4 linked regions of the Homo sapiens genome follow. The protein of the gene in region 1 interacts with the protein of each later gene in a pairwise test. Each region holds a gene or a part of one and is shown in the gene's direction. Other genes may lie near its edges. The genes, in order: CCDC102B, TFIP11, PFKFB4 and SPATA2.

What was found.
Region 2: the proteins of CCDC102B (region 1) and TFIP11 interact in binary tests that used the Homo sapiens proteins (3 or more experiments, as listed by UniProt).
Region 3: the proteins of CCDC102B (region 1) and PFKFB4 interact in binary tests that used the Homo sapiens proteins (3 or more experiments, as listed by UniProt).
Region 4: the proteins of CCDC102B (region 1) and SPATA2 interact in binary tests that used the Homo sapiens proteins (3 or more experiments, as listed by UniProt).

Annotation. Positions count from the first base shown.
Region 1 is NC_000018.10:68,801,080-68,808,113, forward strand, and holds part of CCDC102B (coiled-coil domain-containing protein 102B), read left to right. Parts: intron 1-7,034. UniProt on the Homo sapiens protein: During interphase, forms fibers at the proximal ends of centrioles to maintain centrosome cohesion. During mitosis, dissociates from the centrosome following phosphorylation to allow centrosome separation. Contributes to CROCC/rootletin filament formation.
Region 2 is NC_000022.11:26,495,474-26,502,473, reverse strand, and holds part of TFIP11 (tuftelin-interacting protein 11), read left to right. Parts: intron 1-421; coding exon 422-574; intron 575-2,842; coding exon 2,843-3,370; intron 3,371-3,498; coding exon 3,499-3,605; intron 3,606-5,584; coding exon 5,585-5,753; intron 5,754-6,157; coding exon 6,158-6,401; intron 6,402-7,000. UniProt on the Homo sapiens protein: Involved in pre-mRNA splicing, specifically in spliceosome disassembly during late-stage splicing events. Intron turnover seems to proceed through reactions in two lariat-intron associated complexes termed Intron Large (IL) and Intron Small (IS).
Region 3 is NC_000003.12:48,539,781-48,546,814, reverse strand, and holds part of PFKFB4 (6-phosphofructo-2-kinase/fructose-2,6-bisphosphatase 4), read left to right. Parts: intron 1-3,168; coding exon 3,169-3,235; intron 3,236-7,034. UniProt on the Homo sapiens protein: Synthesis and degradation of fructose 2,6-bisphosphate.
Region 4 is NC_000020.11:49,912,502-49,919,879, reverse strand, and holds the start of SPATA2 (spermatogenesis-associated protein 2), read left to right. Parts: upstream 1-4,350; 5' UTR 4,351-4,500; exon of another isoform or gene 4,501-4,850; intron 4,851-6,177; exon of another isoform or gene 6,178-6,388; intron 6,389-6,918; exon of another isoform or gene 6,919-7,378.

The DNA of each region.
Region 1 (7,034 bases):
GAATCATACTATCATTAAGTAGGCTTTACTGAAGGAGTATCTTTTTGCCGTACACGAAAACAGATGAGGATAGTTGAAATGCAAAGATTTGGTCACTGACCTTGAGATTTTATTTTTGTACAGGTTTAGGTTGCATTCTAAGAATATATTCTATAGAAGACATTTTGTATAACTAGTGCTCCATCCTCAGTGCCCTGACTAATTGTAGATGCTCAATGGAGATTGTGAGCTTGAGACCTTGATTGTAAAATGGAAAACTAGATATTGTATTGGAGGTTGTGCTCAAGGCCATTTAATTGTAGTCATAGCTTTGCAAAGGACTGTTAACATTATTATATACTTAAATATTATCCAAGTTGATTTATATTTAATGATATTTCCTAAAAGAATTGCTGTTGTGTGTCATAAATATATTAAAATATTTGATGTTAAAATTTTGATAGAAGGATTTTTTTAGTAGCTAAAGAAAAAGGTGTCCTTAATATTGAGAAAAAAAACATATGCTCACTGAAGAATTTATAAATATATCTTATCATAGTGTCTGTTTCAAATTTGTAGAATTAAAGTTTCCAAAAATAAAAGTGAGATTTTTAGTCACTGACTCGGGAGCATATGTTTCTAAGCTGCAGTAAACGTTTGGAAATATAACACAGGTAAAGAGGCAATAGTTGCATGAAGAAAAACCTGTAGCAACTTTAGACTCATTTTCATTTGGAAATAGTTTTGAGAGTCTTTCATACAATCTTTCCTTTCCTCCCTTAGTGAATTTAGGATTGTGAAGGCATTAGGTGAAAGATTACATTTATGACCTCTGCAAAAGATCAAATAGTCTTATTAGTCAGCCTATATTCATGAATTTTCTATCTTCTTTTGACATGAAGGGTTTTGAACAAGCGTTTCTTCTCTGGATGAGAAGAAAATGTATTTCACAATAAAACATGAAAATTATAAGGTGCTCAGTGGGATTATAACATTTGGTAGCACAGGAAAAAAGAGAAAGATGTGGAAGTGCCATAATCCATTGGTGTTTCATATAATTCTAGAAGGTTCTGGTTATAACCTGTTCCTAATTTGGAGCTAGAATAATCTCAGGGATTGTCTGAGGGTTCAGGTGAGCTTTGTTCTATCTTTGTTTGGAAATCACTTTACAGGTATTGTCAATGGTAGGAATGAGTTGGGTCAAAGCAACTACGTAGAGTCCCTGCCATCCTATTTTTGATACTGCCCAGGCTTCTTCATTCTTTTTGTAATAATGAAACTTAAGTTATAGAATTTATGATTGCATGGATTAAAAACATGGATGTTGCAATTATGTCGTGCTACAAGTGCCCTCTAAAGGTGTTAATGCTATATGAATTTACTTGCTGGCTTTTATGTTTTTGATATGTTTTTATATTTTATGTTTTTGGTATCAGGACTAAATAAATTTGACCTGATAATGTAGATTAATGGGAGAAATTCCAGTATTCATGGATTAGAACTAGGAGGGCTATCTCAGATACAGGCTTCTCACAGAAGGCTGGGGCCTAAGCATAGGTACTGAATGCAAAGCTCTGGTCCTGGACCTCACATGGTCCATTCATTGTCTATGGTTGGCCGTCATTGTTTCCTCTGTGGCTATAAGTTTCTTCCATATTATTGAGCAGGATGTTTATCTGAATTAATATAAATGACATATTCGAGAAGCATAGATCTTTATCCAAAACGATATCAGAAGTAGAAATAGTGCAGAAGACAAACTCCACCTCCCATCTGCTGATTCTTTTGAAACCCCTTGGTCCTCTTATCTCTGAAAGGGATACATGGCTTTGTTCTCCCAAATATCCTATCCACTTTCCACGCTGTTTCAAAAGTATTTCTGGCCAAATAAATGTAAATCTTCATCTTTTGTATATACAGATAATCATCATAGGTGTATTTGTGAATTATTTAAGTACTTGGAAGAATGAAGTTGCTGATAGCAATTAAAGTGGTGTGATTGGGGTTAACCTCACTTAAAACTGTTTCTTTATTAATTTTAAAAGCCTATAAGCGTTTAATATCTAAAAGCCACCTTCTTTAGAGAAGACTGACTTATTTAGTGGAACTTGTAATGCTTGCCTTTTGGAAGAAAAGGAATAGTTCTAAGTCACTCTGTTTTAGATTTGTCCATTTAGTAATAAATGTCTACCATGTCTCAGACACTGTTCTAGCAATGGAAATAGAGATGTGAATAAAAAGTAAAACCCCTTTCTTTACATTAAGCATATAGTCTAGCTGGTAAAGCAGTAGAATCCATACATAGTATATAAATATATATTAAGTCATGATAAGTACTGGAAGAAAAAAAGAACATTCAGGCTAAAAGGGAATAGAATATTTACACACTCTTGAAATAACCAGGGAATGTCCCTTCTGTTAGGGTGAAGGATGTAAGATACTTAACCACGAGGAATCTTGGCAGAAGAGAAGTATAAAGGAAATCACATGTGCTAAAGTCTTAAGTCAGAAGAATGTCCCTTCAAGGAATGGCCAGATGGCCGGCAGCTGCTGGGAATGAGCGAGGCAGGGAGGCACAGGCAGAAGCTACTTTAAGAGGAAGTAAATCCAGCTTAAGCTTCAAGATATTAGGGTGGTGCAAAAGTAATTGCATTTTTTGCCATTACTTTCAATGGGAAAAATCACAATTACATGGTCACCAACCTAATATTATTTTACTTTTAAAAGGGCTCTTCATACCCCAACTGTAGGAGCCTCAGGTCGGGAAATCATGGGTCCTGATGAAGAGTTCAGGGATGGTTTATGTTTAGATCATGACAACATCATAAACTACAACCACTTTATTCTGAGTTTGATGGGAAGTCATTTGAATGTTGGGATCCTAGAAATATTGTAACATAAGTTGAGTGTTCAAAGCATCCACTCGGCTGTGCTGTGGAGAACATACTGGAGTAGGGAAAAGGTAGAAGTGGGGAGGCCAGATACCATACAGTATTCCAGGCAAGAGACAGGGTGGTTTGAAGGAGATATTAGAGATGGAGTTTTTGTAATTCTGCATAGGCTGTATTTCATATTTTCCTGCCAGAACTGATGGAGTTTCCAACAATGATGTGCAATGAAGAGACAAAGGAATCAAGGGTAACCCCTAAGTTTGGTCTGTAAACCTAGAAGAGTGAAATGTGCATTTATTGACACAGGGAACACTGTGGAGGAGCAGGTGTAGATGTGAGGGGAGTTCAAGTGTTTGTTTTTGAACATGTGAAATCTGAGATGCTGATTAGATATCCTTAGTGATGTTAAGTGGGCAGCTGGACACGTGAGATCCCAGAGATAAAGGAACATCTCAGGCCAGAGATATGTCTGTTAGGAAATTTCAGAAAATTAATGAATTTGAAGTCAAAGGCCTGGATGCCTTCACCCAGAGCAATTACCCCAGCCTGAAGTCTCAGTGTTGGAGCGCTTGCAGTCAGAGGTGTGAAGCTGAGACAGAATGTGGGGCAGCTACCAGGGAGTAGGAGGAGAACCATGAGAGAGGATGCCCTCAGAAGCCAAGAAAGGGAATGATGAAATGGACAATCACATACAGGGCTTCTGGTTGGCCAAGTAAAACAGGAATTTCAGGCCTGGAATTGACCATTAGATTTGCAATGTAGAAGTCACTGATTTCCTGTTTTTGTGGCAAACTAGAGTTGAAAATGATACTGCGACTTCAAGAGAAAATGAGATAAATGAAAGTGTCTTTAAAATAATTTTTATTTTAGAAAATGCCAAAGATATGGAATGGCTGCTGGGTTGGGATCAAAATCTTTTTTTTTTTTTTTATGTTGAGGGTATTATAGCATGTGCATTTGCTAATGGGAATAATCTAATCTAGAGAGAGGTACAAACTAGTTAAACAGGAGAGGAGTATATTTGAGGAGGCCATGTCCTGGAGCGGATTAGAGGAAATTAGATAGAGCATACAAATGGGAAGTTTGGTGTTAAGAACGTGGAGTAATTCTCTATAAAAACAGACAGAATAACATATGGGTATCCATTAGACACATAGATATGATGGAACCAGTGGATGGCAGTTGTCTTATAATTACATATCTTTTGTAAGTGAAATAGAAAAACCCCCGCAATCTCAACAGATAAGGCAGAGCTGAATAAGATATGAAAATTTTGAAGATAGCTAATGTATGGGATTATTCAGTAGAATGTTTGTGATTTAATCAGGGAAAAATATTAATTTCCCTATGGTAGAGTTGGCTTGGCTACATTAAAGCCCATATGAGGTTCAGAGTCAAGAAACTGAAGTGAGACCAGATAGCAATGGGTGTGTTTTCTCAAAGCCTGATCAAGAGTGTAGGTGCAGACATGGAGCAGGAAGACAGCTGTGATTCACTGACATTAGAGTTTCTAAGCAAGTAGGGTCAAGAGAATGCCAAGCTTGCTCAGAGCAATTTGTTAAAACTGGAGCACAGAATAGGGAGGAGAGAGTGGATGTGAAGCCGATGAGGAAGAGAGAAAAAACAATACAGTCCATTGACAGGAGGCCATAGCTAGGTCAAAAAAGAGAGTTATGGGGACAATAGTAAAGGGTAATCAGAGAGGTGCTTATCATTGATATGGAAAGAAATGCTAGTATGGTAATGGGATCTAGGTGCATAACCAGCCAGTGAGTGGGTGAGGTCATATTATTGGAATTAATAGGAACTGAGAGGTGAGGATGTTGTAACGACACTATATATGAAATACTTTGGACATGAAAATTTTTCTTGTCCCTGAAAACATATTCAACTTCTCCTAACCTATTAACATAATTGGTTTCATTATATAAATGTTAATACCCATTCCCATGCCAAGACTCTACAGTGTTGTCAGTGATCTCATTTACTTTTCTCTCTGCTTATGTAACATTTTGATCAGTCCTACAGACTGTATTAAAGAGCAATCTTCAGCCAGTGATCAAAGCAAGACAAAGAAGCCTTCAAATACAGCAGATTACAAGCCCATAATTTTTTTATGTGTTTATCATTTTGCCAAAATTTTGGATAAAAATAAAATTATATGTATTAATAATGTTAAGAACACATGAATTAATATTATTTTTAGGTTTTTATTTACAACTGCTGTTTTAACAATGACATACATTTTTAAAATTAATAATTATTTTTTCCCATGTTGTCTAAACAGCTTTAAATATATTTTAATGGGATGTCTCAAAGCTTAGATAAGAATGCTCAGCAAACATATCCAATTTTTAAAATGATATTCATTTTATTTTTGTATGATTATTGCAACATCACCTCTTCTGTATTATGTGGCCATGTGGAAGAGAATGAGAATGTCACATTCACTTACCTTTGAATAGCAGGCTACTTTGGTATGCATTTTTATTATCAGTAGAATATGTTTTTCAAGCATATATTTGCAAGTAATATTATTAGTAATTATCTTAATTTCCTGTATTTAGGAAACCTCTAGGTGTTAGAGACAGCAATATTGCCAAAACATTCTGAACATGTTTGAAAAAAATCAGAATGCAGTTTTCTATTTCTGTAAAATTCTCTGTGGAAAAAGAGAAGCTCTTAAAGTCTATTGGATGCTCTACAGCTATTTTGTCCAATAGAAATATAATTCAAGCAACATTTGCAATTTAAAGTAGCTACATTTAAAAAGTTAAAAAATGAACATGTGAAATTAATTTTAATAATATTTTTGATTTAATCCAATCTTTCAAAAATATCACTTCAAAATGTAATTAGTATGAAGTTATTAATGAGATAGTTTACATTTTTACGTTTCATGCTGTGTTTAATTAGTACTCACCGAACATCACAATTCAGGCGACCCTCATTTCAAGCGTTCCCTAACTACATCTGATAGGTGACTACCATTTAAGACAGCACAGGTTTAATACTCCAGAATATAAACGGTTCAAAAATATCTTCATAGCAACCATAGAATACATTTCAGGCATTGTATTTATCTCCTTGTTGAAAGGGGGAACACATATGAGTTTGAACGACCTTATCAAGGAAGAGAATTTACCTCACATTTTCTGAACCAGTGTTCTCTGGGTTCTACTATAGCTCTCATGTTATCATATTTACATACTTATGTTATTTTGATACTGAGAAGTATGTTAAAGATGGTGGCCTCTAGAAACAACTGGGACCAATATATTCTCTGCTTGCTATAATTTAAGAAAATTTACTAATTTAAGAAAATTTAACAGGTGTGAAAATCAGGCAATGATAAAAATGATAAAACTCAATTTAGGAGTCCACACAATTCTTAGTACTTTTTCTCTTTTTTTATAAATTAAATGCAATGTATAGATCTGGGAAATCATGAGATATTTAAGAAAAACAAGGAAAAAATAGAGTTTTTGAGGAAGAATTAAGATATGACGTTACAGGAATTACTTGGGAAAGAGTTGAAGACAATAATTACATGATTGGGAGGCAAAATAAAAACCAAGCAAGCTTTGAGAAATGTAAGAGTTTAATCTGGTCTTCCACTCTTTGCAGCTTTCCTTGCACATGGCGTCCATTTTCTGTTTTAGGGACTGGAAAGACAGATCTTTTGAGAAATACAAACACTGAGTATTCACTTCCTGTTATTTTGACATTTTTAATCCAATTCCTTTACTTGTCTTTACTAAGACAAACAACTATGCAAAAATGAAAGGAAACAAATGAAAACGGATCCCAGATCAATCAGCAGTTGTGTTAAGGATTCTACTTTCTAGTTAAATTTTTTATTTTCTTTATTGCTACCTTCTCCTATGTCAAAGGATGAAAACCAGAAATATAAACACTTAAAAAAAAAGATGATTGCAGAGTTGGTGGCCTCTATGTCTGAATAAATTACTAATTTATTTTGGCTAACATGGAGAAAATATGAGCAGGGATGAACGTTTCACTAGGATTTGAGCAACTAATCTTCGAATCAAAAGCTAACTTTTTTTTCTTAAGATTCCACGTCTTTTCCTTCTCAAGATTACAAACTCATCTATAAGTTTCATATTATAGATGTAACTTTCCCAGTGAAATCAACATTTTGGA
Region 2 (7,000 bases), on another chromosome or scaffold:
TTGAGAGTTAGGGCCTGCTTATTTATCTTCATTTTAAAGTTAGAAACAAGGTTTTGTGTGCTTAAAAAATCCTTTACATTGCATTTCTAAGTTTTACATGAGGTACATTTAAAAGTAGTATAGTGCCTGCCCATAGTAGATGCTCAATAAATGTTGTTTCGTTTATCTTTATTTTTGTTTCTCCCTCCCATCTGGTGTACCTGCCTTCTGAACCTCATTATTTGTAAGAGGGCGAATGGGGTCAAGGAGTATCATTAGATAGTTTTGGTGTCTTGCAGGTGCATCCTTTCCTTCCTTCATATAGAGCTTGTAAATAAATCTAAGACAGTGAATGGTGACATCTGCTAATGGTCTCAGCTACCTCACCTGTGGTAAAAAGTGGTTGTTCCTTGCTGCATCTGACTGTATTCTTCTGGTTCAGGAGTTTCAGAAGGAGCTGAGCCAGTGGAGGAAAGACCCAAGTGGAAGCAAGAAGAAGCCCAAATACTCTTACAAGACCGTGGAAGAGTTGAAGGCCAAGGGCAGGATTAGCAAGAAGCTCACTGCTCCCCAGAAGGAACTTTCTCAAGTCAAGGTACAGGGGCCCTTGGACACCTGGTACAGGATCCACACCCCAGAAATAATCACTGAACATGTTCGAGGGTTTTTTGGATCTTTTAGCTAGGCTTTTTTTTTTTTTTTTTTTTTTGGTACCTTGCTTTTCTCACTTATTTATAGGAGTGTAATGAATAGGAACATGCTCACATAGTATTAATATCATGTTCCTATTCATTACACTCCCATATTTAGTAATAGTTACCAAGTTCCTTCTCTGCTAGGCACTCTTCACGGCACTACACTGGTAAACCAAATGATGTTCCTGTGTTTCTGGAGCTTACATCAGTGAATTTAATAACATTCTTGTTATTAAAAACTCAGTGCAAAGTGTTTATAATGAGCACGTAATTCCAGAGAGTGGCTGTGCTGTATTATTTGATCCTACCTCCGTTGTTAGACATTTAGCTTTTATCTGGTTTAGTTTGGGTTTTTGGCTGGTTAGTTTGTATATAAAACTTTGTCTTTGTTTCAGACATTTTTTAAGGATAGACATGTACATGTGCAATCACCATGTTGAATACAAAAGTACTTAAGGCATTTAAATACTCAGAAGGTTGTATTAACTCTCTCTGACCAGGAGGGCAGGAGAGAGTCCCCAGGGCTCCTTAGCCAGCATTGAGTATTTTCTTTTTTTAAGATAGATTAAATTTTCAGCCACTGTTACGTCCATGTAGTGTATTAAGTTTTCCATTACTTGGCTGGGGATGGTGGCTCACGCCTGTAATCCCAGCACTTTGGGAGGCCTAGGCGGGCAGATCACAAGGTCAGGAGATCGAGACCGTCCTGTAACATGGTGAAACCCCGTCTCTACTAAAAATACAAAAAATTAGCCGGATGTGATGGTGGGCGCCTGTAGTCCCAGCTACTCGGGAGGCTGAGGCAGGAGAATGGCATTTACTCAGGAGGCGGAGCTTGCAGTGAGCGGAAATCGTGCCACTGCACTCCAGCCTGGGGGACAGAGCGAGACTCCGTCTCAAAAAAAAAAAAAAAAAAAAAAAGTTTTCCGTTACTTTTCCAAGTAGTCAAAGAACAGTGGTGACAGTTGCCTGTTGTCATTTGCTGTAGGATATGTAGTGTGTCATAGACCTCAAAGAAAGCCTTTAGTGGGGTTCTCAAACGTGCTGTTATCTGGACGACCTGATAAGAAATAAGAGTGTCTAGGTGCCTCCCAGGAATTGAGTCTAGACTGAACCTCAGGACTCTTTTTTTTTTTTTCCTCCAGTGAGTCTAAAGCTGGTGGTTCATGGATCACACTCTTACTTAAAAAGTGGTGATGAATCATTCTGTTTCAGAAGTGTAGTCCGTATTCACATTTCCTGTTTTCCTAAAATATTGGAATTAGCTCATTGTCTAGGTTGCCTTTGTTCAGTTAGCCTTTTGTATATTTTATTTTGTTTTAAAATTAAAAGGCTGGGCGCAGTGGCTCATGCCTGTAATCCCAGCATTTTGGGAGGCTGAGGCAGGCGGATCACAAGGTCAGGAGATTGAGACCTTCCTGGCTAACACAGTGAAACCCCATCCCTACTAAAAATACAAAAAATTAGCCAAGTGTAGTGACGGGCGCCTGTAGTCCCAGCTACTTGGGAGGCTGAGGCAGGAGAATGGCTTAAACCCAGGAGGCGGAGCTTGCAGTGAGCTGAGATCGTGCCACTGCATTCCAGCCTGGGCAACAGAGCGAGATTCTGTCTCAAAATAAATAAATAAATTAAATTTAAAAAAACTTTGTTATTACACAGCAGTGTGTAGTACATTTTAGAAAATTAGGAAATAGGCAAAAATGTAGAAAATATTTTCCATCCTTCCAAGATTACCAAATGTTAACATCTTGTTATACATCCTAGATCTTTTTCTATGCTTATGTGCATTTTTTAAATCAAAATGTGATATTCTGATTGTATGTTACCTTCTTTGATCAGTACAGCTTCTACCTTTCCATTAAAATAAATTTTCACATCTACTAATACTCAGTCCCTATTTAAATTTCATGTTTCCCTAAAAAGTCTTCTCCATCTGGCTTGTTCACAGTGATCCAACCTAGAACTGCTTGCTGCATCTGATTTTGTCCCTGGAGTCTCCTTTAGGCTAGGACAGTATGGTTCCCACTTTACAACACTGCCCTTCTCCAGCTCTGTTGAATAATGTGGTTTCTACACACTTCCCCTGTCATGGGGCCTTCCCCTGGGCTTAGCTGTGTGTTTAACAGGGCTGCAGCGGTGTTAACCTTCATCCCTCTATGTTTTCCAAGGTCATAGACATGACAGGCCGGGAGCAGAAGGTCTACTACAGCTACAGTCAGATCAGCCACAAGCACAACGTTCCCGATGATGGGCTGCCGCTACAGTCCCAACAGCTGCCACAGTCTGGCAAAGAGGCCAAGGCCCCCGGCTTCGCGCTGCCCGAGCTGGAGCACAACCTGCAGCTGCTCATCGACCTCACGGAGCAGGAGATCATCCAGAATGACCGGCAGCTACAGTATGAGCGGGACATGGTGGTCAACCTCTTCCACGAGCTGGAGAAGATGACCGAGGTCCTGGACCACGAGGAGCGGGTCATCTCGAACCTCAGCAAGGTCCTGGAGATGGTGGAGGAGTGCGAGCGGCGGATGCAGCCCGACTGCAGCAACCCCCTCACCCTGGACGAGTGTGCCCGCATCTTCGAAACCCTGCAGGACAAGTACTATGAGGAGTACAGGATGTCCGACCGTGTGGACCTTGCTGTGGCCATCGTCTATCCACTCATGAAGGAGTACTTCAAGGAGTGGGATCCCCTCAAAGTGAGTTGCTGGGAAAATCAACCTATCCCTGCCTCTCGGTTGGGCTTACCCTTGCTTGATGAGTTGGTTCAATGGGCAGGGAGGGCTGGAGAGCCCGCTGCCCCTCAACTGCTCACCTTTCTCCTCAGGACTGCACTTATGGCACCGAGATCATCTCTAAGTGGAAAAGCCTCCTAGAGAATGACCAGCTCTTGTCCCATGGCGGACAGGACCTCTCAGCAGATGCCTTTCACAGGTACACCACAGAGCAGGGCTCTGTACCCCAGCTCCTTTCTCCTGGGGGGTTGGGAAGGATTGCTGAAGGTGGGGGAAGGCAGCAGTGCTGGCCTTGATTAATTCTCTGCTCATGCTGACAGTGCTTTAGGAATTTAAATTCATTTGGCTATGAATTTTTTTTTTTTAATTTTTTTGAAATGTTTTATTTCCATAGGGTTTGGGGAACAGGTAGTATTTGGTTACATGAGTAAGTTCTTTAGTGGTGATTTGTGAGATTTTGGTGTACCCATCTCCTGAGAAGTATACATTGAATCCAATTTGTAGTCTTTTTTTTTTTTTTTTTTTTGAGATGGAGTCTCACTCTGTCACCAGGCTGGAGTGCAGTGGCGTGATCGCAGCTCACTGCAACCGCCAACTGCCTGGTTCAAGCGATTCTCCTGCCTCAGCCTCCCAAGTAGCTGGGATCACAGGCACACGCCACCACGCCCAGCTAATTTTTGTATTTTTAGTAGAGACAGGGTTTCACCATGTTGGCCAGAATGATCTCAATCTCCTGACCTCGTGATCCACCCGCCTTGGCCTCCAAAAAAATGCTGGGATTCCAGGCGTGAGCCACCGTGCCTGGTTCAATTTGTAGTCTTTTATCCCTCACCCCCTTCCCATCCTTTCCCCGAGTCCCCAAAGTCCATTGTGTCATTCTTATGCCTTTGCATCCTCATAACTTAGCTTCCACTTATAAGTGAGAACATAAGATGTTTGGTTTTCCATTCTTGAGTTACTTCACTTAGAATAATAGTCTCCAATTCCAACCAACTTGCTGCGAATGCCATTATTTCATTCCTTTTTATGGCTGAGTCATATTCCATTATATTTATACCACAGTTTCTTTATCCACTTGTTGATTGGTGGGCATTTGGGTTGGTTCCACATATTTGCAACTGCGAATTGTGCTGCTGTAAATTTGTGTGAGCAAGTATCTTTCTCGTATATGACTTTTTTTTTTTTTTTTTTTTGAGATGAAGTCTTGCTTTGTCGCCAGGCTGGAGTGCAGTGGCACGATCTCGGCTCACTGCAACCTCTGCCTCCCGGGTTCAAGCGATTCTCCTGCCTCAGCCTCTCGAGTAGCTGGGACTACAGGCGCTCGCCACCATGCCCAGCTAATTTTTGTATTTTTAGTAGAGACAGGGTTTCACCATGTTGGCCAGGATGGTCTCGATCTCTTGACCTCGTGATCCGCCTGCCTTGGCCTCCCAGAGTGCTGGAATTACAGGCGTGAGCCTCCGTGCCCAGCCATGACTTCTTTTCCTCTGGGTAGATACCCAGTAGTGGGATTGCTGGATCAAATGGTAGTTGTACTTTTAGTTCTCTAAGGAATCTCCACACTGTTTTCCATAGTGGTTGTACAATTACATTTGGCCATGAATTCAGCTGACACTTGTCAAATGTCTGTTGCGTATCATGCTTGTGCTAGGTGCTGGGCTTACCCTAGGAGCACAGCAGACAGCCTCTGTCTACAGTACAGCAAAAAAAGCAGATGGGAAGTAAGGTAGTGAACAAATAAAGGCAGGATGCACACCAGGTACAGCGATAGAGAACTGCAGGAGCAACCTACTTGGAACGGGGGTTGGCACAGAGGTCTTAGGGGAGGTGACGTTGAAATTGTGATAAGAGGGTGAGAGGCATCAGCTCATGAATAGAAGCCTATAGGTGGGAAAGCACTTGATACCTGGGAAGAGGCCCTTGTGACCCTAAAGCAGCTCTGCCAGGTGGATGGGCACTACCTAGGAGACTGAGGCCTCAGATTGAGAGGAGAGTCAAGAGAACAAGGAAGAGGCAGGCTCAGTCTGGCCAGTATGGTGACTGGCCTGATGGTTTCCTCTGATTGGATTTCCATGCTGTTGCATTTTTATTCCTGATTCTAGAGAGGCAGGTGGTGGTGGTGTACTTTGAAACCAGTCAGTGTAATTAACCAGCCTGTCCTCTGCCTTTCTCCCATAGGTTGATATGGGAAGTCTGGATGCCTTTTGTTCGAAATATTGTCACCCAGTGGCAGCCAAGGAACTGTGACCCGATGGTGGACTTTTTGGATAGTTGGGTGCACATTATTCCTGTGTGGATCTTAGATAACATACTGGACCAACTCATCTTCCCCAAGCTGCAAAAGGAGGTGGGATGAGAGTCATGGGAAACAGTCGTCATCACTAATCACAGGGACTTGTTCAGTCTGTGGCTTCATTATCTCAGTGCTGTTAAAACGCCTGGAATTAACGGAATTTGTCAACACAACTATTGACCTATAGTGTTAATTCCAGCCTTTTTCTCAGCACTTTTTCCCCCAAGCCACCCTCAGGAGGGAATTCATTTTCTTGATTTTGTCACTAAAATTAGAATTGTGCTGTTTCTGAGATGTAATCAAATGGATGGGCATATTTGTTTGGCAATGTACAAAGGACTGTGGGCCTCAGAGAGCACAGGGCCTCCTCCAGGGGCAGCTCTTGCCTTTAGCCACACAGGGGTGTTATGTGACTGCCCCACAGGCGACATGAACTGTTTCTCCTCCCCACTTCGCAGGTGGAAAACTGGAACCCGCTCACAGACACTGTTCCCATCCACTCTTGGATCCACCCATGGCTGCCCCTTATGCAGGCACGGCTGGAGCCACTCTATTCCCCCATCCGTAGTAAGCTGTCCAGCGCCCTGCAGAAGTGGCACCCCAGCGACTCCTCTGCCAAGCTCATCCTCCAGCCCTGGAAGGATGTCTTCACTCCTGGCTCCTGGGAAGCATTCATGGTCAAAAACATAGTGCCCAAGCTGGGTAAGGATAAGGGGAAATGCATTCCAAGCCCAGCAGCTTTGGTGCCCTGGTTTCTGTGGTTAGCAGTGATGATTTAAAGCATCGCCTTTATGTTCATGAAAGTGCTTAGTACACAATATTCCTTGCTGTGAAAAAGGTAACATTTTGTTCAGAGGCTGAACATAAATGTAACTTGGGTCCTTTCCGCTGTTTATTTACAACAGTCACTAATAGTCGACAGTGACAATATCGGACTCTGTGCCTTGTGGTTTTCCCGATTGGTTTTGGCTTCTGGTAATAGGACAGCCATTGGAGTTCTAAAATTTTTGTGGTATTTTACTCTAAATTATTAGGGAGTTATTTCCAGGTTAGCAAAAAAAATATATATACATACACACACACACACACACATATATGTATATATATACACACATGCATATACATGTATATATACACATGTATATACACATATATGTATATACACACATATATATGTATATATGTATACACACACACACATATATATATGTGTATATATATACACATATATATTTTAAGAATCGCTATGTCGGGAGCTTAAATTTGACCTTTAAAAGCAGATTACAGCCTGAGCAACATGG
Region 3 (7,034 bases), on another chromosome or scaffold:
CATATAGGCACCCTGTGCCTAGCATGTACCAAAATTCCAGACTCCCAGAAGGAAAGCAGATAATCAACATAAACCATGTTGTTTGTATAAACAGTCTATGCACAGTGAGCTCCTCTTATAATTCAGGGAAAGTTTCATATCACTAGAGGGAACTGTTTACCATCAAGTTCCCCAACCCTGGCCAAGGGCCAACCTCACAAGCAGGCCTTTCGAAGGGGACCATTCTCATACCTGCTGTGTTAACTCTTCCACACACATGCAGTCACCCACTACACATGAAGGTGGGTGCACACACATATGCATACCTCAGAGTCATGTGTGTGGGCACATATACGCTTGTGTTCACCTGTATGCACATGTGGATCTGTGCACATGTACACACCAAGCATGATCGCATATGTTCTCACACAGTCACATGGCACATGAAGACATGTATACACACACACCATGTGTACACACATGGTCACCCCCACATGCATACTCTGTATATGCTTGGACACACACACACAAACTTATACACATGGGTGCATGCACACACATCCTGTGTGCACACATGTGGGCACACTCACTCATACCTGTGCCCATTTAGTCACATACCGCACACAGGGGTTGTGCACGCTCGTGTGTGTGCACCTGTGCTCATACATGGGCCCAGGGAATACTCACACAGGTACACTCACAGATTTACATGTACACACTTGGGCACAACACACACATAACCACCCACACGTGTGGATTCATGCACATATGCATCTCTTCACCCCATTTGCACTCTCTTATACACACACACACACACGCACACACACAGGCTCCCAGGCTCTTCCCTCAGCATCTCCACCGGGGCCCTGAGGTCTCTCCTGCATGGTGGTGTCATGGCCAGAGCAGCCCACAAAAGAGATCTTAGCCCAGAACGTGGGGCTCTAAGGAGAAATGTCCCTACCAATGCCAGTTACCTGGACTCTCAGAATTCAGATGTTTTTGGCATGAGGAAGAAAGCACTTTGAGGCTTTAACTGGAAGACCCATTGGGGCACAGAAATGGTTACAAGGGCTGGACATAGTAGCTCACATGTGTAATCCCAATATTTTGGGAGGCTGTGGCGGGAGGATCACTGGAAGCTAGGAGTTAAAGACCAGCCTGGGGAACATAGTGAGACCCTGTCTCTTAAAAAAAAAAAACAAAAGAAAGAAAAGAAATGTCACAAGGAGCCGTAAGAGTAGAGCTCTTTTCAGTGCCCTGGACTCAGCTCTACCACTGATTTCTTTGTGGTTCTCAGATCAGCTTCTGCCGCTGTATTTCAGGCATATCGTCCTGATGAGAGCCCTTTGACTTTGACATGCTGGGAGTTTAAACACAAAATCCAAAGATCAACAAAGCCAGGAGGGCTGGGCACTGTGGCTCAAGCTTGCAATCCCAGCACTTGGGAGGCTGAGGAGGGTGGATCACCTGAGGTCAGGAGTTCAAGACCCACATGGCCAACATGGTGAAATCCCATCTCTACTAAAAATACAAAAAATTAGCTGGGTGTGGTGGCACATGCCTGTAATCCCAGCTACTCGAGAGGCTGAGGCAGGATAATTGCTTGAACCCAGAAGGTGGAGGTTGTAGTGAGCTGAGATCATGCCACTGCACTCCAGCCTGGGCAACAAAGTGAGACTCTGTCTCAAAAAACAAAAAACACAAAGCTAGGAGATCTAGCTTTACCCTTACATAGAAAAAGGGAAGATAATAGATAAAAAGGTAATTTATCTATCTCCAGACCTCATAGGATAAATTGATGAGAATAATCCTGGCTGGGTGCAGTGGCTCGCGCCTGTAATCCCAGCACTTTGGGAGGCCAAAGTGGGCAGATCACTTGAAGTCAGGAGTTCGAGACCAGCCTGGCTAACATGGCGAAACCCCATCTCTACTGAAAATACAAAAATTAGCCAGATGTGGTGGCACGTGCCCATAATCCCTGGTACTTGGGTGGCTGAGGCACAAGAATTGCTTGAACCTGGGAGGCAGAGGTTACAGTGAGCTGAGATTGCACCACTGCACTCCAGCCTGGGCAACAGAGAGTAAGACTCTTGTCTAAAAAAAAAAACAAACCTTCTGTGTCAATCCACTTTGCAGCAATAAATGAAAAAGCTGAGAACTTAAAAAGATTGTGTAAGCCTGGGCAACATAGCAAGACCCCATCTCTAAAAGAAATTTAAAGATTAGCCAGGTGTGGTGGCATATCCCTGTAGTTTCAGCTACTCTGGAGGCTGAGGCAGGAAGATTGCTTGAGCCCAGGAGTTTGGGCTGCAGTGAGGCATGATCCCACTGCTGCACTCCAGCCTAGGTGGCAGAGCGAGACCTTATCTCAAAAAAAAAAAAAAAAAAAAAAAAGATCTGAAAACTGTATAGTCAGTGTTTGGTCATAGGTGGGGGATTCCCATTCTGGAGGGTATGGATATGATAGAAGAAGAGATGCAGAACCCTCCCTCAGAAGGGGTGGTTTGGGGAACTCTCTTTCAGGAAAGAAAGTTGAGCACTAAGCCTAACACTGCCCGAGGGCCAGCCCTAGTGTTCCTCCCATCCCCACCACCAACTCCTGACATGCACACAAGAAAACGGCTGCTTTTAAAAATGCTTATTTTGAAATATAAAAATTAGCTGGGCGTGGTGGTGCACGCCTGTAATCCCAGCTACTCAGTAGGCTGAGGCACGAAAATTGCTTGAAACTGGGTAGAAGTTGCAGTGAGCCGAGATCGCACCACTGCACTCCAGCCTGGGTGACAGAGCGAGACTCAGTCTCAAAAAAAATAAATAAATAAATAAAAGGCGGGCGGGGGGGGGCTTATTTTGATAATCAGGGAAAATATATGACAATTAGAAATCATGAATGTGGCACAATGACAGCATGGATTTGTGCACAATGAGAGGATGAGGGAAAATACAGAAACGTAGTGCTTAAAAAATGTTCCTAATAGCCAAGAGTGTATAGCCTTCCACCTCACAGGAGCAGAGTTAGCCAAACACTGAACATTATCCTAAGGAAAGAGAAGGGAAACTTTGAAAAGAGAGCAAGAGACCTCGGGGCTGTTCCTTCTCCTGTCATGTCTCCTCCTGTTGTGTGTCCCTGGCCACCCTCCTGGAGCCAGGGTCGGGTGCTGGGCTGACCCTGTGTTTTCTCTCCTGAAGGCAGTGTGCCCTGGCAGCCCTCCGTGACGTCCGGCGGTTCCTTAGTGAGGAGGGGGGACATGTGGCGGTGAGTGTGACACCCTGGTGACAGCTGGGAGTGACACATGGGAGCCCATCCACATCTGTGCCTTTGCTCGTCAGGCATCTGGAGGGGAAGGCAGGGTGTGTGTGCCCCAGCTGCTCTGGGTGCCAGCCCTTGGGAGGAAGTCTGCAACAGCTATGCAGGAGGAAGCCAGAGACTGGATATGGGCCAGGAGTTTCCCTCTGGGCATGTGGTGGCCGCATTTGACCCTGCAGGACTTCCCTCTGGATGCTTGTATTCTTGGCCACCCCAGAAGTTACAGGTATCAGGTTGCCTAAGTCTTTAGTAAATGTGATTTCTCCTGGTGTGGGGAGAATCCTGCCCAGCATTACTGGTTGTTGTAGGAACCCACTGAATCCTGGATTAAGGGGATTCCACCTGTGTGTTGGCCCTTCTAGTCAGACGGAAGAGCAGAACAGGGCTAAACTGGGGTGTCTGTGGGAAACGGCTCTACCCCAGCCTTATATAGTCAAACACAGGGGCTGTTCTTTCCCTTCCTTCTTCTTCCTGGAGTCATGCCTTCTGGAGTTCTCTGTCCCCAGCTACAATCTGTGCCTGTAGCACAGCCATTGCCCTTCTCTCTCCTGGGTTGAATGTTCTGCCTGTGGATCCCACATCATCCTCTCTTTGACTTACTGATTTGTTTCATTGAAGCACATCCTCCAGTAACTTCCTGAGAAAGGTGCTTGGGGAGGTAAATTGTGTGAGACCTTGCACATCTGAAATGTCTTTTTTTAATCCTCACATTTGATGGTTGGGTATAGAATTTCTAGGTGGAAAGTGCTTTTCCCTTAGAACTTCTACAACATCACTCTGATGTCTTATGGCTTCTAGTGTGGCTGTGGAGAAGTCTCATGTCATTCTGATTTGCTGATCTTCCTAAAAGCTTCATCTCTTAGAGGGAGCTGAGAGTTTCTCATGCCCCTTCCGCTTGGGAGGCCTTTAGGGTCTTCAAGGTGATGTGGTTTGTGGTGGGTCTTCTCTCCACCATACATGGTCCTAGGGGGCCCCTTTTCATCATAACACTCTTGTTCTCCAGGTCAGGGAAATTGTCATGTATTATTTCTTTGACAAATCACCTCTGCCCCTTTCTGGCAACTCACTCCATCCCTACTCCCATTTTCTGAGCTGCTTTTTCTAGAACTTCTGGTGGCTACATGCTAGCTTGATTCTGAGATTCTGATTTTATCTTTTTTCTCTTAATTTTCTTTCTTTCTTTTTTTTTTTTTTTGAGATGGAGTCTCGCTCTGTCACCCAGGCTGGAGTGCAGTGGCGTGATCTCGGCTCACTACAAGCTCCTCCTCCTGGGTTCACGCCACTCTCCTGCCTCAGCGTCCTGAGTAGCTGGGACTACAAGCCCCCGCCACTGTGCCCGGCTAATTTTTTGTATTTTTAGTAGAGATGGGGTTTCACCATGGTCTCGATCTCCTGACCTCGTGATCCGCCTGCCTCTGCCTCCCACAGTGCTGGGATTACAGGCGTGAGCCACCACGCCCAGCCTTTCTCTTTATTTTCTCTGTTTTTTTTGGTTGTTTGTTTTGAGAAAGACTTCTTCAACATTATCTTACAAGTATATGAGTGTTGTTGTTTTTTATTTCCTTGAGACATGGTCCTGCTCTGTTGCCCAGGCTGGAGTGTAGTGTCTCAATCATAGCTCACTGCAGCCTGTCTCCTAGGCTTAAGTGATCCTCACACCTCAGCCTCCTGAGTAGCTGGGACTACAGGCACGTGCCACCATGCTTGGCTAATTCTTGTATTTTTCACAGAGACAGGGTTTCACCTTGTTGAGCAGGCTTGTCTCAAGCTCCTGGCCTCAAGCAATTTGCCTGCCCCAGCCTCCGAAAGTGTTAGGATTACAGGCATAAGCCACTGCACCCGGCCCAAATTTCTTTTTTTGTTTGTTTGTTTGATTTAGTTTCTGTTTTTCTTGTTAAAGGTTTTGCTGGAGTGTCCAGTGAGCCCTGGCTGGATGCCCTTTTTAAAAAAGTGATGCTGGGCTGACATGGTGGCTCATGCCTGTAATCCCAGCACTTTGGGAGTCTGAGGCAGGAGGACTGCTTGAGCCCAAGAGTTTGAGACCAGCTTACATAGCGAGACTCTGTGTCTACAGAAAAATTTTTAAATTAGCCAGGTGTGGGCCAGGTGCGGTGGCTCACACCTGTAATCCCAGCACTTTGGGAGGCTGAGGCGGGTGGATCACGAGGTCAGGAGATCAAGACCATCCTGGCTAATATAGTGAAACTCCATCTCTACTAAAAAAATACAAAAAATTAGCTGGGCGTTGTGGCAGGCGCTTGTAGTCCCAGCTACTCGGGAGGCTGAGGCAGGGGAATGGCCTGAACCCAGGAGGCAGATGGGAGACTGAGGCAGGAGAATGGCGTGAACCTGGGAGACAGAGCTTGCAGCGAGCTGAGATCGCGCCACTGCACTCCAGCCTGGGTGACAGAGCAAGACTCCGTCTCAAAAAAAAAAAAAAAATTAGCCAGATGTGGTTGGGCACAGTGGCTCACCCCTGTAATCCCAGCACTTTGGGAGGCCAAGGCTGGCAGATCATGAGGTCAGGAGTTCGAGACCAGCCTGCCCAACATGGTGAAACCTCGTCTCTACTAAAAATACAAAAATTAGCCAGGCGTGGTGGCACAAGTAGCTGTAATCCCAGCTACTCAGGAGGCTGAGGCAGGAGAATCGCTTGAACCCAGTAGGCGGAGGTTGCAGTGAGCCGAGATCACGCCACTGCACTGCAGCCTGGGCGACAGAGCAAGACTCTGTCTCAAAAAAAAAAAAAAAATTAGCCAGGTATGGTGGTACATGCCTGTAATCCCAGCTACTTGGGAGGCTGAGGCGAAAGAATAACTTAAGCCCAGGAGGTTGAGGCTGCAGTGAGCTATGATTGCTCCACTACGCTCCAGCCTGGGCGACAGAGTGAGACCCTGTCTCAAAAAAATTTTTTTTAAATAAAAACAAAAAAATGATGCTGTAACCGAGGTGTGGTGCACACTTGTAGTCCCAGCTACTCAGGAGGCTACTCAGAGGATGCTTGTGCAGGCCCCAGGTACTTCTCAAAGAGCTCCAGATGGGTCAGTGCCTGGCTGGATGGGGTTGGGAAGGGGGCCTGGGCCTCCAGCTCTTCTTTATCAGCCAGCTAGTCCTCCCATTTCGTCCCCACCTTTGTCCCTTTTCTTAGCAATGCCACTGCACCCTCTGGAGTGCTCTGGTCCTGCACAGGTGGTGTGCTCTGGTTGGCCAGCACCTGTGTTTGGTTTCCTACATGACTCTGAGTCCGTCACCGTGGATCTCTCTGACAGAATTGTGTTGATGTCTCCATCTCCTGTTGTCTCCTTTTTCTCCTGTCATCTCTTTTTCTCTTTATCCTTCTGTTCCCATTTTACTGGGGTGTCAGGATGGAGTAGAAATAAACATAGGTTCAGTTTACTAGGTTTAACTGGTTTCACTGCAATTCCTGTTGGTCAAACACAAACTGAGTGCCCACTGTGTGCAGAGCAGCACTGAGTAGGTTCTTCTGTGCCACGGGTCTGCTCCCCTGCTGGGAGCACAGGCATCCTCTCCTTCTAACTTCCTTGGGGCATTCTCTCCAAGGAAGGGGAGGGCCAGCCCAGCCGTTGCAAGTCTGGAGGAGACTGGCCAGGCAGGTGGACCTGGCAGCAGCTGGTCCTTATGAGAAATCCAGTCCCCAGAGAGCCTGTGCTGCGGCCCTCACTGCCCACTTCAGGGCCCACTCTGGCCCCTTCCTTCCCCAGGGCCAGAGGCTGAGTTAACCCTAGTT
Region 4 (7,378 bases), on another chromosome or scaffold:
TTTAAAAATCTGGATTCCAGGCTGGACGCAGTGGCTGGTGCCTGTAATCCCAGCACTTTGGTGGGTCAAAGTGGGAGGATCACCTGAGGCTAGGAGTTTGAGACCACCCTGGGCAACACAGCAAGATCCCACGTCTTCAGAAAATAATTAACTGGGCATGATGGCATGAGCCTGTAGTCCCAGCTGTGTGGGAGGCTGGGGTGGGAGGATCCCTTGAGTCCAGAAGTTTGAGGTTGCAGTGAGCCATGATCATGCCACTGTACTCCAGTCTGGATGACAGATCAAGACCTTATCTTTAAATAAATAAATAAACAAACAATCTGGATCTCTAACTCCTCTCCAAAAATCAGAGTATCTGGTCATTCCTGGTGAGTGGGGATCTTGGCCACAAGTCAGCTGAAGCATGGAAGGAATTCAACAATATTTGTTTTCTCACTGAAGTACTTATTGGATGCCTACTGTGAGCCGGGTACCATGTTAGATTACATTACTCATTTCTGGTCCTACGCAGTGTGAGGCTATAGTACTCTAGTACCTCGTATTTGCCCACATTATGTGCTTGCAGGTAGCTGAGTTTGTGTTTTTGTTTTTTGTTTTTGTTTTTGCTTTTTTGAGACAGGGTCTCCCTCTGTGTCCCAGGCTAGAGTGCAGTAGCGTGATCTTGGCTCACTGCCACCTCCACCTCCCAGATTTAAGCGATTCTCCAGCCTCAGCCTCCTGAGTAGCTGGGACCACAGGTGGGCACTACTACAGGCTGGCTAATTTTTGTGGTTTTAGTACAGATGGGGTTTCACTGTATCGGTCAGGCTGGTCTCAAACTCTGGGCCTCAGGAGATCCGCCTGCCTCGGCCTCCCAAATTGCTGGGATTACAGGCTTGTGCCACTGAGCCCAGCCACAGGTAGCCGAGTTTTTGATCTCAGGTCCTTGCCTTTGATTGCTCCCTTTACTCCAGCTGGAAGGAAAGCTGGACAGCCTCACATGTCCAGGTCACTCAAAGCCCAGCTCAAATGCTACTTCCTCCTGGAGGCTATCCTTCATTTACCCTGTCAGAGGTCACTTCTCCATGCTCTAAGCTCTATACCCCTCTCATATCATTTACCATCTTCTATCCTGAATTCTAGGGTTTTATTAATCCTACTCCTATGTTATGAATATTCTCTTTCGGTTAAGGAGACTGGATGCTCTGTGAGGGCAGGAACTGTGTCTGTCTCACTCACAGTTATGCCCTTTAAACCTAACATCAGGGTGGGCATGGTGACTCATGCCTGTAATCCCAGCACCTTGGGAAGCCAAGGTGGGAGGATCACTTGAGCCCAGGAGTTTGAGAGCAGCCTTGGCAAAATTGCGAGACCCTCCCTCTACAAAACAGTTAACAAAATTAGCCAGATGTGGTGGTGTGCAACTGTGGTCCCCGCCACTCAGGAGGCTAAGGTGGGAGGATCGCTTGAGCCTAGGAGGTTGAGGCTGCAGTGAGCTATGATCATGCCACTACACTCCAGACAGGGTGACAGAGTGAGAGACCCTGTCTCAATTAAAAAAAAAAAATCTGACATCAAACTTGGCACATGGTAGGTATTCAGTGAAAATTCTGGTCAGAAACAAATTATGTTGAACAACCTATTGCATGCTAGGTAGTGCATATATGTCAGGTAGTAGTAATATAATTGTGAACAAAACAGACATAGTTTTGTCCTCATGGAGTTCACTGACTTCTGGGGGAGAAAGATATTAATACAGATCACATAAATGTGTGTTTGTGGAATGAAAGACAGATATCTGTATCTGTGTTCCTGTCCCCAGTTGACTTTTTTTGTTTTGTTTTTTTGAGACAGAGTCTCACTCTGTAGCCCAGGCTGGAGTGCAGTGGTGCCATCTCGGTTCACTGCAACCTCTGCCTCCCAGGTTCATGCCATTCTCCTGCCTCAGCCTCCCGAGTAGCTGGGACTACAGGCACCCGCTACTGCGCCTGCTACCACACCCGGCTAATTTTTGTATTTTTAGTAGAGACAGGGTTTCACTGTGTTAGCCAGGATGGTCTCGGCCTCTTGACCTCGTGATTTGCCCACCTCGGCCTCCCAAAGTGCTGGGATTACAGGCGTGAGCCACCGCGCCTGGCCATGCATCACCCTTTTTAAGTGATCCACAGTATTTGTTAGTATGGATATACCATTACCCCAGTGATGGAGATTTAAATATTTCCTATTATTGCTTTTGCATTAGAAACAATGATGCAAGAGGTCTCTTTGGGCACAGTGTATGTTTCTCTAGCAGATTTTGAGAAATCCAATTGCTGGGTCATGGGGTAGCTTTTCTGTTTTGCTTTTTGTTCTATACTCCTCTGTATTGTTGGAATCATGTATTACTTTGGTGATGGAAAAAAAAACTAAAAAATAGAAAGAGGTAGGTAGATTGTTCGTGTTGTTGGCTCTTCGGAAGTAGAAGTGCCTAATCATTGTCACGTGACCCTTACATAATCTGGTAATCATTATATAATAAAGTCGGGAAAGGACGCTCCTGTCATTTCTACATCACCAAGTAGAGAAATCACAAGCCTTCAACTGTGTTTAAAAGATGAGAAACATGGCCGGACACAGTGGCTCAGGCCTGTAATCCCAGCACTTTGGGAGGCCGAGGTGGGCGGATCACGAGGTCAAGAGATGGAGACCATCCTGACCACCTTGGTGAAACCCCATCTCTACTAAAAATACAAAAAATTAGCCAGGCGTGTTGGCGCGTGCCGGTAGTCCCAGCTACTCCGGAGGCTGAGGCAGGAAAATGGCGTGAACCCAGGAGGCGGAGCTTGCAGTGAGCTGAGATTGTGCCACTGCACTCCAGCCTGGGTGACAGAGCGAGACTCCGTCTCAAAAAAAAAAAAAAAAAAAAAAAAAACTGAGAAATGTGACTGTCTTTGGAGACTTTGGGTCTTTTCTGATAGTAGATGATGACCAGGGTTTCCTACTGGTAAAGCCCTTCTTCAAAATCTTTGTTTCTCTTTTGCCTGTCATAGACCCACAGAGCTGGAGGGGACTTTTTTAAGCAGCCCCACGTGAAAATGCAATATTGTAAGAGCTACCAAACCAGAGTGCTGAGTTGCTGTAAGAGGCAGACTTAAGGTGGGACAGTTTGTCTCAGATGGAATTCCTGTGAACATCATCACATTGCAGATAATTAAGAGAGGAGCTTAAACATGAGCTGATAAAGAACACAGGGACTTTGAGCGGTGCTCAGGCAACGACAGGTAAACACAGTAATGCTACTGTTTGGACAGCAGCAGATTGCTGGTTCTCCAAACGTTTCCCAGTATTGTGTCACTGACTCATCACACAAGCCCCACCGGTTTTAGCTGGGGTCACCAAGACTCAGAGTGAGAATCCTACAATCAATGAACATCTGTTGTGTGCCTCCTCATCAGACATGTGCAGAGCTCGGGGGGAAATAGATGAATAAGAAGCTCAGGGTCTGGTGGGGATGTCAGATTATATATATATATAGTTTATCCGAAAGTGCTGGGATTACAGGCGTGAGCCGCCGTGCCCGGCTTTTTTTTTTTTTTTTTTTTTTTTTTTTTTTTAAGAGACGTGGCCTCGTTATGTTGCCCAGGTTGGTCTCGAACACCTGGGAGCAAGCCATCCTCTCGCCTCAGCCTCCCGACTAGCTGGGACTACAGTCGCGTGCCACCACGCCTGGCTTTATTATTTAATATTACAGGTTAGAAAGCTGAGGCTCAGAGAGGTTAGGTAACTTGTCCAAGGTCACACAGCTAGTAAGTGGCAAAACTAAAAATAGAACCCACGCTCTTAACCGCCGCCCACGGCCCGTAACACCCGCAGCCCTAGCAAGGCTGGATTCCAATCACGCGTGATTTCAGCATCTCACTGGCTCTCTTTGAGCCTCGGTACTTCTGTCCGTAAAATGGGGGCGAGGGATCCGACCGTCAGCCCCTGCTTGCTTGTGCGGAGTCATGAGTACAGCTCGTGGATCATGATAAGTGGCAGGTCCGGGAAGTGGAGGCCGAGTTCACGCAGTCAGCACTCATAGCTCCCAGCTCCCTGCTCCTGAGCGGTTTCCATGACAACCCGGCCAGCCACCATCCCTAGGCCGAGCGGCTTGCGTCACGTCCGGCCTGTTTACTTCCGGGTCCCAGTCTCAGACGCAGCGATGGCTCGTTAGGCTCCAAAGTGCGGTTCCGCCGGTTTCGTCCTCGCTCTTCGGCCTTCCGCTTTGTCCTCCGCCTCTGGGTTGTAGTCTCCGTCGGCCGCGGGCATCGACCGCTTCCCGGAGCCAGCGCGCAGCCGTGGTCCACCCTCTCTTCGGGCCCGCCTCATGGTGACATCATTTCCGGGCCGAGTGTTTCCGGGTCGCTGCTGGCCCCCGGGTACTGGTCTCAGTACCCCTGCAGCCGGCCGGAGAGGCTAGAGCCCGACGGGGCCCGGCTCCGGCGGCAGCCGCGCCTCTCGCTTGCTTCCCTCGGCCGGGCCGTCCTCGGCGGCAGTGTCAGGGTGAGTGACGGGCGGCCGCGGGCGGAAACTGCCTTCGGGGCTTCCCCAGGCGGAGGGGGCGCCAGACAGCGGCAGGGCTCGGCTGGCCCGGGAGCGGGGTACCCTCACGGCAGGCAGGACTACAGGTGGGCCCGCTGTTTCGGCGCTCCCGGGACCCCCAGCCTATCCTCAGGACCCCCATTCTCCCGGGAGCTGCCTCGCAGGCTCCTGGGACCCGCCGAGGGTGGCTCAGGGCCGCCCAAGAGGAACACCCCTCTTCGGCGACTGGCCAAACAGAAGGACACCCCGATTTCGCCACGAGGCAGTTACCGCGCAGGGGTTCCCAGTTCAGGCTCTGGCGGCACACCTGGGTTTGTACTCACTGTGTGACCTTGGATAAGTCACTTCATCTTAAGAGCCTCAGTTGCCTATTTAAGTGATTGAACCTGGTTGCTAGGGCTGGAGTGGAGATGGAATGAGATCATGCAGGGCCTCTGGCATACAGCAGGCGTCCAATAAGTGATAGTTCCTGTTACTTCATTCAATTCACGAAGCCGTAGGGGGGGCCAGAATTTGAGACTGGGCTGTTTTTCACAACTGACGTGGCCCCCCGAGGCTGTAGGAATGACCGAGCTGGGACTTAGCAGCCGCCAGCTTCTGTCCCCTGCAGGGAGGGAAACAGCTTCCTTCAGAGCTTCTCCGAGAGAGGCAGCTGCCACTAGGGAAGCTTCTTTCAGCACCGCTGAGGTTATTTTCAGAGGTTTGGAAGGACTCTGTGTGAATTTCTTTGGAATCTAGTAGGAGTGTGGGGACCTTCTGGTGTTTCACAGCCAGTGGAAGGTGCCTTGGATGTTTCTCGGAGCCTCTTGCTTGGAACGAGTGCATTGGTGTGGGTGGGGAGGTGGAGGGGGTTGAACTGACTTCCCCGTCTCCTGTTTGGAGGCTGATGGAGCTAGACCAGGGATGTGTAAACCTGTGGACAGGGGCAGTGCACAGACCAAAATAGGTCTGCCTGTGCAGAGAGGGGGCGCCTTCAAATGCTGCTTGGGGAACATTTCTGCTTGAATGGGCCAGCTGAGGTAAAGCCAAGCTAATGCTTAGCTACTCGGAATCACTTCACTTCCATGCAGTGGGACTCTAAACAGATACAGCTTTCCTCTTAGATGTTCAAAAAATAACTAAAGAAGCCACTGGCTCCCTGACTGTGCAATATCTCTTTTTCCATTGACTTGCTTTTCAAGAAGGTACCTAGATTGTGGGTGCAGGAGGTGCTGACTGGAGCCGTTGACTCTGGGCACCTGCCTGTCTCTGTGTTCAGGATATTCACAGTGCTGTTTTTTTGTTTTTTGGGTTTTTTTTTTTTTTTTTTTCCACCAGACTGGCACGGCTTGGCGTTCCAATCCTTGGGTTGCTTGGAGAAATTAGCAGCTTCTGTCGCTGGGCTGTCTCGGTCTCCTGTAACCACGATGTTTTTGCAGAGAGCGTATTTTGTTGTTCTTGCAGAGTGCTGGGAATGAATTGCTGGCTCTGTGCTCAGAAAAAACACCAGCTATGACCAGCTACAAGGCATCTTGTATTCTCAGAAAATGTTTTCAGCAGGGATGATGTCAGCTGCTTCATCACTGGCCGATGTCTCTGACCAGCCTCTTTCCTTGGCCCTTGAGCTTACATCATATAGAGATTAGCTCTCCTAGCCCCATTCGGTGTGGGAAGATGGGAATTTTGCTACTACAGGAATTTTTGTAACTCAACTCTGCTCGCGCCGCCATAAGGCATTCTAACTTAGCCAAACACTTTCGAGTAGAGCTGTCCAGCAGATGCAGCAGGATGGCTTTGCAAGAGTCGGAGTTTTGGCGTTAGACCTAGGTTCAGAGCTCAGATCCACTTCTTCCTAGCCTTACGACTTAGGGTAAGTGAGTTGGCCTCTCCGAGCCTCAGTTTCCTCTTTAACCTTGGATCTATCCTGTGGATTTCATTGGTTTTCACAGAGCAGTTAGCAGAGGGATGCCACACAGTAATCCCTTGGTAAATGGTACTGATGTAACAATAAATGAGTGAGGTAAATTGGAGAAAGCCCAGGCATCAAGGGCCTCCCAGCAAGAGTTCAGATTCCAGCTCTGACCCTTTCAAACTCTGTTGGGCAGGTTGTTTTAATGGGAAGAGCCTGTTTTCCTTATAGAGTTGTGAGGATTAAATGGGATGATGTAGGTAAAGTGGGAAGCCCAATGCTTAGCACATAGTAGAACCTCAGTAATTGTTAGTCTCTTTCTTTCCTTTCCTTATTGACTGATTGAGACAAGGTCTTGCTCTGTCACCCAGGCCGGAGTGCAGTGGTGCCATCATAGCTCACTGCAGCCTCAAACTCCTGGGCTCAGTGGATCCCCCCACCTCAGACTCCCAAGTAGCTAAGACTACAGGTGGGTGTCACCACACCCACCTAATTTTTTTTTTTTTTTTTTTTGTAGAGACGGAGTCTAACTATGTTGTCCAGGCTTGTCTTGCCCTTAATTATCTTTTAGCTTTTACTTTCTTCCGCCTTTTCCCTCACCTACCCAGGTTGGTTTGAGATTTGTTTTAGATAGGCTTCCTGTCCTTATTGTGAGTATTTTGAACATCAGCTGGGCTGTTTGGATCCCTTTCCTTTATTTATTGTTTTTCAGCAACAAACAAGGGTGTGGACTGTGGTGCGATTATAGAGCAGCAGACGCTGAGCCGAGCTTGAGACTGGCTGACTTTGTAAAAAATCAGTCTCTTTGAGTTCAAGGCTGACTTCCTTGGAGAAAAATTACAGCAGTATTCGGAAGCTTAATGTCTCTGTGTTTGAATGGTTCTCAGACTACCAAAAAACAGACCCTGGGGCCAGAGGCGTGATGGCAGCTTCTCTTAGATAAGTCAAGAA